2 separate regions of the Homo sapiens genome follow, and region 2 is linked to region 1. A link means that fine-mapping ties the variant in region 1 to the expression of a gene that starts in the linked region. Tissue or cell type: whole blood. Region 1 holds a variant in brackets; the other region holds the start of a gene. All regions are shown on one strand. Distances are from middle to middle.

Region 1 (2,852 bases):
TCCCCACACTTATGACTATGTGTTTTTTGTTTGTTTGTTTTGAGATGGAATTTGGCTCTTGTTGTTCAGGCTGGAGTGCAATGGCGTGATCTCGGCTCACCACAACCTCTGACTTCCAGGTTCAAGCGATTCTCCTACCTCGGCCTCCTGAGTAGCTGGGACTACAGGCGTGTGCCACCGTGCCCGGCTAACTTTGTATTTTTAGTAGAGATGGGGTTTCTCCATGTTGTTCAGGCTGGTCTCGAACTCCTGACCTCAGGTGATTCACCCACCTCAGCTTCCAAAAGTGCCGGGATTACAGGCGTGAGCCACCGTGTCTGGCCACTTATGACTATGTTATACTTCCACCTCTTCTATGATCTGTGTTTGACAGTCCTCTTAAAATGCAGTATCTGGAGTTGATACCATAGTCCCAATATGACTGGACTGGTACTGAATACAATAACTCTATGTCTTTTCTTGACCTGGCTGTTCTTTTTAATGAACTCAAGATTGCACTAATCACCTGACACAATTGGCTCATATGAAGTCTATAGTCAAGATAAAAATTCCAGCTCTTAGGCCAGGCACAGTGGCTCACTCCTGTAATCCCTGCATTTTGGGAGGCTGAAGTGGGCAGATCATACGAGGTCAGGAGTTCGAGGCCAGCCTGGCCAACATGGTGAAACCCCATCTTTACTAAAAATACAAAAAATTAGCCAGGTGTGGTTTTGGGCACCTGTAATCCCAGCTACTCAGGAGGCTGAGGCGGGAGAATCGCTGGAACCTGAGAGGTGAAGGTTGCAGTGAGCTGAGATCATGCCAGTGCACTCTAGTCTGGGGGATAGAGCGAGATGCCATCTCAAAAAAAAAAAAAAAAGAATCTCAGATCTTTTCACAAGAACCGTTTTAAACCCGTAGGTCACCTGCAAAAGGGGAATGAGATTTCATTTCTCTGAGAATTGTACTAGATATTGTTGATTGTCTAACCCAGAGTCATTCTTTTCTTTTCTTCTTCCTAACAAACCCTACTTTTTTGCAGGTATTTGCCCCTTCTCCAGGAACCCTGTGTGTCTCAAGAAATGCTGGCTCCACTTGCAATTCCAAGGGTGGCCTGATTGATCAAAAGGCGATCTTGTGCCTTTGACTCATTAACAAATAATTTTGGCCCAGGAGATGGAAGTAGAGCTGGGCTGGACCCTTCTAGGAAAGCTTTTCCTCCCTTTTCTGGGTGAACTCCTGGAAATGACCCTTTCTTTCTCTGGATTTATTGCACGTGGATGTGAGCCCTGGATCCGCTGTGGACATGTCATCCCCAA[C/T]GTGGGATGAAGCTTGCATTACCACAGGAGGCCAGGCAGAGAGATTTCAGGGAAATAGAGATAAGGCCATTGGGATTTGAACCTACTGAGTCTAGATAAGGCCTAGAGATAAGTCAACCCTCTAGGCCTTTTTATACCCTGACTTCTAGCTATGTGAGCCAATGCATTTCTGTCTTGTTTAAACCTTTTTGGATTGAAGGTTGTTTTTTTTTTTTTAATTACACATGTCCTGACTAATGTGGCTATCAAATGGTATAACATTTAGTTGTTATGTATTAGTTTTCTTTCCCTCTGACATGATGGTGGTAGCATGGTGTGGTGATTGTGTGTGTGAGCTTTGCATTTCAAGGTTCCCAGATAGTTTCCTAGCTTCACCTCCTCCAAGTTGTGTGACCTTGGGCAGAATGACTTACCCTCCAAGCCACAGGTCACTTCTATGAAAAGCAAGGGTAATAAAAGTTCCTGTTTCAGATTTGCTGAGAGGATTAATGAAGTCATCTATGTAAAGCAACAGTCCCCAACCTTTCTGGCACCAGGGACCAGTTTTGTGGAAGACAGTTTTTCCACAGACTGGGGGGCTGTTTGTGGTGGGAGGAGTGGGGGATGGTCTTGGGATAAAACTGTTCCACCTCAGATCATTCAGATCATCAGGCATTAGATTCTTATAAGGAGACACAACCCCGATCCCTTGCATGCGCAGTTCACGATAGGGTTCGAGCTGCTACGAGAATCTAATGCCGCTGCTGATCTGACAGGAGGCGGAGCTCAGGTGGTGGAGCCCGCTGCTTATCTCCTGCTGTGCAGCCAGTTCCTATCAGGCCAGCGAATGGGGACTGAGGACCCCTGATGTAAAGGATTTAGTGCTTTATGCTATCTAGCTGCATGATGCACAAAGCACAAAGTGCAGGGCCAGGCTCATGAGAAGCACTTGGTACTCAGTACATTTCAGCTATTATTATTCACTTCCGTGTGTGTGTATATGTGTGCGAGAATGTGCAGCTTAACTGTTGGACCTATATTAAGCACTTCACTTTTTCTGGGTTATGTTTTATATTCTTTTTCACCCTATCATTTCAAGCTGTAGTGATCTCTCTGACTCTTACCGTCCAACATGCTGAAATTTCTTTTCTTGAATATAATTTATGTATTTATTTTAACATCTTGCTTTTGATTGTGATGTTTCTTAAAGTTTTGGTTCATCTAAAGATTCATATGCACATGTCCTCTTGAGCTCACTCCAAGCTGTTAGTAAAAGGGTTGGTATGGCCCCTTCATCCTGCCAGTAGAGATTTCCTTTGAATGTTATTTGCCCCAACCTGATTTCAAGCCCCTGTATCCTGCTTCTCTCTATTTCCCAAGTCACCTGATTTCCACTTGCAGGTTCTACCCTTTTTAGAGTCTGGGGGAAGAAAACTAACATTCGTTAAGCACCTGACGTATGCTAGGCTCATTGCTAGGTGCTTTATGTGTTATGCCTTTTAATCCTCACCCTAAGTGTTCTGTAAACACAGAAGGAACTTGAAGCTCAAAGAGGTTGAACAACTTGCTAGCAAA
Region 2 (2,500 bases), 86 kb before region 1:
ATTGTATGACTACATGCATGCCTGACTAAAAAGGCGACAATACTTTTTACATTAAATTTAACAAGTTTAACTTCTTTTTGCGTTTTCAAATTACTCCACAAAATTACACGAGAAAAATGAATTCCTTCAAACTTAAATCCTACTATATTAAACTATATTAAAAGTCTATCACATAAAATTCACTTCCACAAGGATTTAACTCTAACAAAATAAGCATGTGAGATTAAATATACCCGTTATAGAGATGAAAAAAAGGTTCAAGTGGTTTAACTCACGCATTTAATATAAAGGAAACAATTCCTAGAATTCAAGTCTCTTGGCGGTATTATTCCTGCATACTAGCTATTTTTCATGTGGGGCAATTTTTACCTGATTCAAAGATTTCCCCAAAATAAAGATATCACAAAAACTGATGTAAATATGGTTAAGTCTTTTATCTCAACTAGTTTGAAGTTTTAATTATGTGCATTTGGGCTTAAGTAGATTTTTAGGTTTAAAAAAAGACGTTAACCAAAGCAAGTCACTCAACTTTAAACTTTCACTTTATGACATCATATCTACTAGAGATTTCATTTTACATGTCGCTTTCCCCCAATTTTTAAATGTCCCCTCGATTTACAAATATGAGATGACATATAGCACCTACGACATTTTTTCATAGCAGCCTACCAAGTAGATGTAGTCCTTCACATAAAAATAATGGCAGTGGGCGACCACTCCGTCATGTCTGAGGGTTTTGTTTTTCTTAAACATCACCGTGCCCAAGGGTCAGATGTTCTGGCTGCTTTCAGGGATCAATTACAACCACGTTTGCAATACCTACATTTCTGGGTAATGACTGTGCTAGAACATGAAGAGATTCTCTTTTCTACTTACTCCACAAATGCCCTGGAGCAAAGGCACAGTATCTTACAATCCTCCCGCTCCTCAATGAAGAGAAACATTTCCGCCACGCGGCTCCACTTCTCGCAGCACATTTTACCACTTCGGAGGCAGCTCTGACGTACGCAGCCCGGGTCGCGCCTGCCGGGCCTCCGCTCGGTTACTGGAGACTTAAAACAGGCCTCGCCCGCAAGCCCTGGATGAGGAGATAGAAACTGGCCCGCGGCCGCTCGCGCCGGGAACTAGCCCGGACGCTGCCGCCGGAAGTGGCTCCGAGGGGCCACGGGAAGGGGCGGGACCACGGGCGGTGTCACCCCCATCGCGGCCCGGGCTGCAGCCGCCGCTTGGCTTCTTTCACACGGGTTGCTTCGGAGGAATCCGCCGTGCAAATCTGTCCGCCCCCTTGGCCACTGATCCCCCGAAGAGCTTCTGTCGCCGCTCTAGGGTAAAGGAGAGCTGCCCCTGCCCCTGCCCCCGCCTATCCGAGGTGCGTCGGCCCCCGCGCTTCTCCAGCCCGGCATCGGGTCTGGCGGGACTGGGAGCGGCGGAGGCCGCGCGCGTCCGGTCTCCCAGGAGCCGCCTCGGAATCCCCAGTCTCTTCGCGGGCAGGCTCGGCTTCCCGCCGGCCTCAGTGTTGCGCCCCAGCGCCAGAGTGGCCGGGTGTGGAGATCCTCCCTCCTCTGGGTCAAAGAGCCTGCTCTCCCCGCCCCTCTTCTCCCCTGGCGCTCTAAACCTTCGGTTCGGCGCGTTTCATCCTAATGCATCTGGTGGGGCGAGGCGTCTCTAGCCTCTGTAGAGGCCTCTAGGCTTGCCCAGTGGCTTCGCTGGTTCCGGGACCCAGGTCGAGCCTCCGGTGTAAAAGCCAAGGGGAAGTGTGTGGTGATCCCGAGAGTGTAGGGGGAAAGCCGCGTGGGTAGAGCGTTCGTATCCAGACCGATCAGGCTTGGAATCCTGGTCCTACCTTGTGACCTGGGCAGGCAACTTCACCTTTCTGAGCTTACCTTTGATCACCTGTGAAATGGGGTTGATTAATAGTAACTACTACATGAGGCTGCAGGGAGGACTAAACGAAATGATGTATATTACACCTTTCCTTTGTGCGCTTAATCGTTGGCGTCGGTTTGGACCTTGTAGGCGTTAAGTGCTGTCTCGGTCCCTGGGGTTTGCAGCCTGTAAAACAGGTCTCTGCCTTCAAGTTACTAATTATCTAATAAGAAAAAAGTTCATGTGGGCATAAATAGGATGGAGAAAATGGAAACAGCAGCGTTGCTGGATCTGTTAAAAAGCAGTTAGTATTTGGTGTGTGGTATTCATGGAGGCTGCACGGGCAACTTCTTCAGAGACAAGCTCAGACTTGAAAGTTGGAGCGCTTCGGACGTGGTTGGTGCTACGAAATGCCAAAATAGTATTGGTACTTCTTCAGAACTATATAAAAACTGAGCTAAAATTCATGCATTTTGAATGGTATTTTCAATAGTATTTTGGCCACATTTACTAGTTAGTGGAAATATTCATTTTCAAATGTTTATTCCCACCTCCTTACTGCTGCCCTACTTTGAGGTCGGAGATAGGCTGATTTTGTTGGTTCAAGAAGGTAAGAGTGCTGCACGGTTACAGA

Evidence for each region. PIP is the estimated chance that this variant, and not a neighbour inherited with it, causes the effect.
Region 2: TGS1 starts here. The variant in region 1 is fine-mapped to the expression of TGS1 in whole blood (GTEx, PIP above 0.99).

Annotation. Positions count from the first base shown.
Region 1 is chr8:55,685,605-55,688,456 of GRCh38, reverse strand. No RefSeq gene overlaps it. Among named protein-coding and RNA genes, the nearest start is that of TMEM68, 86 kb to the left of the region's middle. The variant C/T (reference allele first, on the strand shown) is at 1,299.
Region 2 is chr8:55,772,096-55,774,595 of GRCh38, reverse strand. TGS1 (trimethylguanosine synthase 1) reads right to left here and starts at 1,150. Exons shown (of 13, transcript NM_024831.8): 1 at 877-1,150. The coding sequence starts at 977. TMEM68 (transmembrane protein 68) reads left to right here and starts at 1,218. Exons shown (of 8, transcript NM_001286657.2): 1 at 1,218-1,327. RefSeq lists enhancers at 712-1,041, 1,813-2,316 and silencers at 1,182-1,371, 1,462-1,591.